Regions from separate parts of the Homo sapiens genome. Here region 1 is linked to region 2. Evidence: fine-mapped expression QTL. A gene starts in region 2. The other region holds a variant in brackets. All regions are shown on one strand. Distances are between the middles of the regions. Region 1 has its middle 8.0 kb from the start of KCMF1. Region 2 holds the start of TMSB10 (thymosin beta 10).

Evidence for each region. PIP is the estimated chance that this variant, and not a neighbour inherited with it, causes the effect.
Region 1: its variant is fine-mapped to the expression of TMSB10 in adrenal gland (GTEx, PIP 0.97).

The regions. Positions count from the first base shown.
Region 1 is chr2:84,960,927-84,965,309 of GRCh38, reverse strand. No RefSeq gene overlaps it. Among named protein-coding and RNA genes, the nearest start is that of KCMF1, 8.0 kb to the left of the region's middle. The variant A/G (reference allele first, on the strand shown) is at 2,210.
Region 2 is chr2:84,903,626-84,908,008 of GRCh38, reverse strand. TMSB10 (thymosin beta 10) reads right to left here and starts at 2,353. Exons shown (of 3, transcript NM_021103.4): 1 at 2,291-2,353; 2 at 1,892-2,006; 3 at 1,338-1,620. The coding sequence starts at 1,991. The coding sequence ends at 1,586. It overlaps LOC105374836 (a long non-coding RNA gene), which reads left to right and starts at 988. Exons shown (of 2, transcript XR_940308.3): 1 at 988-1,346. RefSeq lists enhancers at 1,027-1,086, 891-2,090 and a silencer at 2,057-2,596.

The sequences.
Region 1 (4,383 bases), 57 kb before region 2:
CACAGAGAGGTTAAATTGACTTGCCCAAGGCCATGTAGCTAGTCACTGGTGGAACCACAATTTGAGGCCCTGATGTTGGCTACAGTTTTCTGCCACTTCCATGAAGTCTGGAAAGGGTCAGAAGGCCCAAATGCCATCTGGTTACTTCACCAGTTCTCTGTTATCTATCAATCTCACAGTCACTATGCAGGAGTCACTGAGGCCTCAATTCTGCTTTGCAGTCTTCATCCCAAATTCTGCCACCCTGAATGTTTTCAAGTATGGCCTTACAATTGGCCTTACAAGGCCTTGATTTTTTTCAAATCTGTGTGCACTTCCACTTCAACCACCCATTCCTCTCTTGTGACCATGCTCGAAACTCTAATAATCTGTCTTATTGTAACTTCCTATTTTTCAGTTTTCTTACTCTCTACCACTAAACCTTTTTTTTTTTTCTTTTAATGTCCAGCGTCTTGCTGTGTCACCCAGGCTGGAGTGCAGTGGTGCGATCATGGTTCACTGCAACCTTGAACTCCTGGGCTCGAGCAATCATCTTTATTTATCAGTGGACACTGAGTAGCTGGGACTACAGGCGTGCACCACTGCACCCAGCTAATTTTCTTATTTTTTGTAGAGACAAGGGTCTCGCTTTGTTACCTAGGCCAGTCTTGAACTCCTGGCTTTAAGTGATTCTTCCACCTCAGCCTCCCAAAGTGCTGGAATTAATAGGTATGAGCCACCACGCCTGGCCTAATCCTTGATGTTTGCACTTGCTGTTATGGTTTTTGTTTGTTTTTCTGAGACAGAGTCTTACTCTGTTGCCCAGGCTGGAGTGCAGTGGCCTGATCTCAGCTCACTGCAACCTCCGCCTCCTGGGTTCAAGTGATTCTCCTGCTTCAGCCTCCCGAGTAGCTGGGAATACAGGCGCCTGCCACCACGCCCGGCTAATTTTTATGTTTTTAGTAGAGGCAGGGTTTCACCATGTTGGCCAGGCTGGTCTTGAACTCCCCACCTCAAGTGATCCATCCGCCTCGGCCTCTCAAAATGCTGGGATTACAGGTGTAAGCCACCACGCCCAGCCGGTTTTTTCTTTTGTTTTTCCCTTTTTAACCCCATTCTCTACCTTATGCAACTGGTGCCCTGTGGTCAACTCAGACTTCTCATTCATGCCCTCAGCTCCTTAAACCCCTCATCCTCAAACTCTACCAGCTTTGCAAGCTTCCAAGCCTGAATTGCCTGACTCAGTTTATCCCTGTGTGTATCTGCTTGGGGTGTAGAATATAACAACTAAAAATGATAGAAGTGTACAGATTGTGGCTGTTATGAATCTAGGGCATTCAACTGCGGTTGGACCTCAGTGCCATTGAGCAATCTTTGTCTTTGGTCAGAACCCTCTTCTATAAACATTCACCACTTGGTTCCAACTGCTTACTCACCCACGTGCCTAATAGATAACCTCACCTCCTAATTCACAGAGGGAGGAAAGTTCAAAATGCAGGAACTTTCACTTCCCACTGTGAGCCTCCAAGGGAGTGTGTACATCTGCATCCTGCTGCCTCATGCATGGAGATAGCCTTTCTGTTCAACCTGTCATCTGTTATGATCCCACTTCATCCCATCAATGGGATCTTACTCCTTCAGCCACCCCCTTGGCACCTGTACTTTCAGCTGCTCAGCCTCTACTGGTCCGTTGCCCTCAGCCAAAAAACGCCCCTTCAACCCTGCACTCCTGGTTATTACCCTATTGTTTCTCTCTGTGGACAATCTTCTTGAAAGAATTGTCACTCCCCTTCCTCAGCTTAGAAACTGGTTTATCTGATTGCCTGACTTTTGGTGCTGTTGGTTACCCTCTCATTTTCTGGGATACCACTATCATCATCTTCTCTTTCATGTCTTTGCTGTTTTTGTATCCCCTATTGGATTGAGCAAAGTCATCAGCCTAGTCAAGTCACCCCCCAACAAGATGAAACACAACAGTCATCCTAGACTCCTTCCTCCCATTTATCTTCCATAGCCAATTGCCAAATCCTGTGATGTTTACCCATTAAACATCTGTCAAATCAGTCCCTTTCTCTTTATTCCCATGGCCACCAAACCATTCCAGGCTGCTATCATCTCTTCTCGAGATGTGGAGTGATCTTGGCTCCTCACTATCATACTCCCTTATGTGGTCCTTTGTACTGACCTGAGCAATAATGATGCTGAAGGCCCCACTGTTCGCTGCCAGCCC[A/G]CAGAGAAGAAGTCTATGCCAGAGAACGAGTGACCAGAAGAGGCTATGCTCACAGAAGTCAGAGAAGCAGAGTCTTCAGGAAGGGAGAACATCGGTGTCCACCAAGCAGAGATACCTCATGAGATAGATTGAAGTGTGGCCCCTGGATTTCAGAAATGGATGTCATCTGTCCATGGAGGAGTAGGGTAAGAAGCTGCATTGCAGTAGGCTGAAGGGTGTCCTTGGAAGCCTAGAAACTGACAGTAGCTATAGATGACTTCTAGAAGATGAGCTGAAATAAGAATGTGAAACAAACTCAACCACTAGGAATCAAATCCAAATTAAAAGGAGACACCATTTCACCTCTTAAATTGGCAGAAAAATACTTTTAATAATACTTGATAATGAGGATGTCAAGAAAGGAATATGACTTGTTACAAGCATTCCAAATGGGATTTTATGGTAGGTTTCAAGAGCAATAGATTTTTGCCCATTCTTTGCCATAGTAATCCCAGCTCAACTCAGTCTATTTAAGTAATTACTGATAGATGCAAAGATTTTAGACACAAGAATGTTTATCACAGTGTTCTTTTTAATATTTAAAATTGAAAACCTATAAATTATTGTCTATCCAAACCAAAAGCAGCAACTAAAAATGGGTAATGAACTAGAAATATGATGTGTTTTTAGTGAAAAAAGCAGGTTACAAAACATTCTTTTCTAAATTATGTATGTACAGCCTGATGTCATTATTGTTTTTGTTTTTTTGAGACTGGGTCTTGCTCTGTCATCCAGGCTGGAGTACAGTGGCATGATCATGGCTCACTGCAGCCTCGACCTCCCAGGTTCAAGCGATCCTCCCACCCTCACTCTCCTGAGTAGCTGAGCCTACAGGCATGTACCACCAGGCCCAGCTAATTTTAAGTTTTTTTTTTTTTTTTAGAGTTGAGGTCTTGCTATGTTGCTCATGCTGGTCTCAAATTCCTGGCATCAAATGATCCTCCCACCTCAGCCTCCCGAAGTGCTGGGATTACAGGCGTGAGCCATGGCACCTGTCCTCATTTTTTATTTTTAATAAAACATGTAAAGATTGGATGGCTATCAGAGTCAATATGGTTATGGGGGTATAATATGGATGATGTATTTTTTTTTATGTTACCCAGGTTTGTTATATGGTATATAGCATGATGCTGAGGTTTGGGGTGTGAATGATTATATCACTCAGGCACTAAGCATTGTACCCAGAAGGTAGGTTTTCAGCCCTTGACTCACTCCCTCTCTCTTCCATCTAGTAGTCCCCAATAAATACATATTTATTGAGTCTTCTGGGTCCACTGAGGACACAATCATGAAAAAGAAAACTATGTCCCCATCCTGGAGGTGTTTACATTCTGGTGACAAAACTAATTGAAGCAGTTCTGATTGATGTTTTGAGAGCTTATGATAAGGTATGAAGGACTTTTTTTCCTTTTAGTTTTGAAATTTTCTGTAATGAACATATACACTGGTTTCATAGCCCTTTTGTTTCTTTTTTCTTTCTTTTGTATTTAAAGAAGCTTGGCAGAGGCCGGGCATGGTGGCTCACACCTGTAATCCCAGCACTTTGGGAGGCTGAGGCAGGTGGATCACTTGAGGTCAGGAGTTGAAGACCAGCCTGGCCAACATGTGAAACCCTGTCTCTACTAAAAATAACAAAAATTAGCTGGGCGTCATGGCACACTCCTGTAATCCCAGCTACTTGGGAGGCTGAGGCAGGAGGGTCACTTGAGCCCAGGAGCTGGAGGTTGCAGTGAGCCAAGACTGTGCCACCACTCAACAGAGTGAGACTCCGTCTCAAAAAAAAAAAAAAAAAAAAAAAAAAAAAAAGCTTGTCAGAGAAATAAATGAGAAATTAAAAGATGGTAAGTGGAGGCCCCAGAGTGAAGGGAAGTGTTTTTGGTTTTAGGAATAGGAGAGTCTAGTGTGTTTAGAGGTTTAGGGGAAGGATCCAGGAGAGGCAGCAGAGAACTGAAGGGTGTATGTGTGTGTGGAGCAGGGAGGTGGGGGTGGTGAGGGTGGGAGATGGAGGGGAGAAGGAGCCCAGATAAATTTAGCTTCCACCAGGAGCAGGATGCCTCTTCCTCTGCTGGTGCTATAGGAAGGTTGCCAATGGGCCGGGTGCGGTGGCTCATGCCTGTAATCCTAGCACTTTGAGA
Region 2 (4,383 bases):
CCTGGGCAACAAGAGCGAAACTCCATTTCAAAAAAAAAAAAAAAAAAAAAAACAACAACCAAAAAGTTAGCCAGGCGTGGTGGCTCATGCCTGTAATCCCAGCTACTGGGGAGGCTGAGGCAGGAAAATCGCTTGTACCCGGGAGGCGGAGGCAGTGAGCCGAGATCGCACCATTGCAGTCCAGTCTGGGAGACAAGAGCGAAACTCCGTCTCAAAAAAAAAAAAAAAAAAAAAGTCTCTCTATTTACTCTAATGGGGGAGGTGATGTATGTGTCCAGGTACCAGGAGGGAGGTGCAGATAGGAGTTCAGAGAGAATGCCTTTGGGCATGAGTCTCCCTGCCAAGCCTAGGTGTCCTGACTCTGGTCTGCTGTGGCTATCTCACTCACCAGATTTTAAATTCCTCGTGGACAGGGACCGTATCTTATTCGAATTAACTGTCTTCACCCAGTGCCCAGCCTCTTGGGGCCGGGCAAAAATGTGGGACGAATCTCTAAGCAGTGTCCTATCCACCTTCCTTAAAGAAAACTCCACCCCTGTCTTTATAAGCCTGTTTCTTCTGCTTCTGAATGGCCTGCAGCCCCAGGTTCCCAACTGTCAGGCCCCCTTGGGCTGGTCCTATTCCTTCCCTGTGGGTTTGAGGTGTCATCCCTTGGAGCTTGGCCGCCAGCGCCAGCGCCAGCCCACCCTTCCTCCCTCCCACCACATCCCCACCCTTCCTGCTGAGCACTGGGTGGTAGCAGATCAGTCTAGCACTTCCTCTAATGGCTAATGTTTTTGTGGGAGGTTCTGAACTAGGGTTAAAAGACAAAAGCTCTTCCCCCCTCCCCTCCCCCAGTTCTAGTGTTGGTTCTTCTAGTTCTGACGTTCCCGTTGCTGTATCCCTAGATCCCGCCTTTGTTTTAAGCTCCCGAAGAAAGGCTTCCGGAGACTTTGTGACCTCACCCAATTTCCAACATTCCAGATTGTCTTTTCTTTCTTTAAAATCAGTGTTCCCTTCTGAGTCAGCTAGGAGGAGGCCAGAGGGAAACAGTGGGGCTTTCGAAGCTTATCAAAAGCAAACCTTGCTCTTTTGAAAAAGCATTTTCCAACGCAACCTGGGGACAAAGTGGGGTTAAATTTTACACAGATTGCTTACGAGCAAGAGTTAAGTGGCTAACAAGTCATGAAATCTTACGGAGAAGCAGGTAAAGCCAAAATTAAAAACTCCCTCCGAGTCAGCCCATTCTGCGACCCACCTCCTCCCCTTTGCGGCAGGAACTCTACTCCATCGAGGGGCTTTGCTGCAGTGGCACTGCCCACGCATACTCAACTAAAAGACTCAGACCACGCCAGCCATGCCACGAGGTGTGTTTTATTTTCATTATTCATACAAATAATTTTCTATAATATCCCGGGGCAAACCGGAGAATTTGGCAGTCCGATTGGGGGGGGGTCCCTTCAGAGACCCACAGGCCGGTGGCATCGGCGCGGAGTGCCCAGGTTCACAGTGCAGCTTGTGGCTCGTGTCCATCTTGCAGGTGGCTCTTCCTCCACATCACGACTGGGGTCTCGAAGAGGACGGGGGTAGGAAATCCTCCAGGATCTTAGGAAATTTCACTCCGCTTCTCCTGCTCAATGGCTGTGGAGAGCGGGAAGCGGGCGCTGGAGGGGAGCTGCAACCCCCACCCGCAACCGAGGTGCTTCCCGGTGTGGGCGAGGCACCCACGAGGTGTGGGGATTTAGAAGGAAGCTTGGGGCTGGGGAGAAACAAGGCGCTTTGTGAAACTGAAAGAGTGGCCGGGGCCGCCCACACCGGGGACAACGGCGGGGTGGGGGGTGGAGGAGTGGGTTTGCAAGGAAGAGCAGGGTGAGGGGCTGGGCTGGGGCGCGGGAGACCGAGGCACACTCACTCTCTTTGGTCGGCAGGGTGTTCTTCTCCTGCGTCTCCGTTTTCTTCAGCTTGGCCTTATCGAAGCTGGCGATTTCCCCCATGTCTGGTTTGTCTGCCATTTTCTTAAAACAATCCTAGTGGGCAAACCAAGGCGCTTGACCTGGGCCTGGGGGCCAGCGTCCCCTTCCGCGCTCCCCGCCGACGCCTCTCGACGTGGCACTCGCGCCAAGGCGTGCCGAGCAGCCCCAAGGCCGAGGATCTGGGCGCGTCCCGCACCCCTCTTCTCGGTCCCAGGGCGTGGTCGCCGGCCCCTGCGTCCGGTCCGAGAAGGGCGCCTGTCGCGGTTGCGGCGCGCCCGCCCGGTGCACCGGATCCGACCACACCCTGGGTGGGCCCCCCGCCCCGGCGCCGCACTCACCGTGCAGTCTCGTTCCGAGCCCGAGATCCTGGTGCTCCCACTCGCGTTGCTGCAGCAAGAAACAAAAGAGCGGCGCCCGCCCCTAGCCTTATATACGCCGCGCCCCGCCCCGCCCCTCACCCGCCGCAGCAGGGGCGGTGCTGGCACCCGAGGGGCGGGAGCAGCGCGGGCTGCTCCTCGCCCTGCCGCGCCCCCCGCTGGGCTACCAGCCCGGCTGGGCGCGGCTTCTCCCGCGCCGGGCACCCCCAGCTCGCAGTGTGCCCAGCGTGGGGGCTGTAGTCGCCGCCAGAGTGGGCGCCAGGCCCCCGGCTTTGCTTTTGCGGCTACATTTCCCCCTTTCCGGGAATCTGCTGCTCACCCCGCAGAAAGGATATGGGACCGGCGTGGGAGGGTGTGTGGTTTTGTGCGTGTGCAGATATGATGTGTAGCCGTGGGTGTGGATGTGCGGGCGTGCACGCGCACTCTGCAGCAATCCTCGCTCTAGGAGACGCCCCACCCCAGTCGCCCCCAGGCCTCTTGCTTTTGCTCCTCCAGAGTCCCCTTCCCTCCCCCACTTTTCCTCTCCTTAGGGAGGCTGAGTCCTAAGGTGGTCCTGCACTAAAAGAATTCGAGCCGAGGGTCCCGTAGTGGAGCGGGGGGCGGGGGGGTGTAGGGGGAGGGGGGAATAGGTTTCCAGCGCTCTTTGCTCAGGTTGGGGGCGGTTGCCTTCTGGTCAGTCGTCCCCTGTTCCCTGAACTGGGCGGTTCCAGCAGGATCGTTGGCGTGGCGGGTGTTCCTTAAATGCTGTTAGACGCATTGTGTGAAGGGCTGTGGTGGGAACAGGGCGTCCCGAGAAGGCTCGCAGTTTGCCTTTTCTCGTCGAGCTCCTAGAAACACTGTATCAGCGGGTGCGGTTTTCCTCCTTGAAGTTAACCTTGAGGATAATAGAGACCCACATGCCTACAAACGTTCTTGTTTTTCTTATTAACCCATTGTAGGAGTGGTATACTGCAATTATTCACATCTTTCTTAGAAAAGTTGTATTTTCAGCCTGTGCAACACCGTTAGGTAATAAGTTCCATAAATTACCAGCCCCGGAGTTAAGGCTGGTCATTCTTTTATTTGTCCTGACCTTTCCTTTTTTAAGTGTGAAGTATTACCGAGCTCTTTAAAGTGGGATTTGGTGGTGACATCCTAAATTCGGTCCTGATTTTATTTATTTACTTTTTTTGAGACAGGGTCTCACTCTGTCACCCAGGCTGGAGTGCAGTGGTGTGATCACGGCTTATGGCAGCCTGGACTTCCCCGGTTCAAGTGATTCTTCCACCTCAGCCTCCTGAGCAGTTGGGACTGCGGGCGTGCACCACCACTAGCGGCAAATCTTTTGTGTTCTTTTTGTAGAGACGAGATTTCACCATGTTGCCCAGGCTGGTCTCGAACTTCTGGGCTCAAGCCATCTGCCTGCCTTAACCTCCCAAAGTGCTGGGATTACAAGCCTGAGCACCACTCCCTGCTTCTCCCCTCCTGATTTTACCTGCTTTTCTCACGTTCCTTCAGTTTGGAACAGTGGGAAGAGAGCATAGGCTTGTGTGACCTTGGGCAAATCTTTTCCTTAGTTTCTTCATCTATAAAATAGCCTTGGCATAAACTGAGGTGAGATAAAGAAGAGGCATAGAGTGGATACTTTTTCTTTCTTTTTTTTTTTTTAGCAGGGTCTCTGTGCAGCGGTGGGATCACAGGTCACTGCAGCTTTTTTTTTTTTTTTTTTTTCTTTTTTGAGACGGATCTCACTCTGTTGCCCCGGCTGGAGTGCAGTGGTGCAATCTCAGCTCACTGCAACCTCCGCCTCCCGGGTTCAAGCGATTCTTGTGCCTCAGCCTCCCAAGTAGCTGGTATTACAGGCACGTGCCACCATGTCCGGCTAATTTTTGTATTTTTAGTAGAGACGGGGTTTCACCATGTTGGCCAGGCTGGTCTCAAACTCCTGACCTCAAGTGATCTGCCCTCCTTGGCCTCCCAAAGAGCTGGGATTACAAGTGTGAACCGCTGTGCCTGGCCTCAAGTGGATACTTCAAATAGCAACCTCATTAGAATATCACACTTATATTTGATGA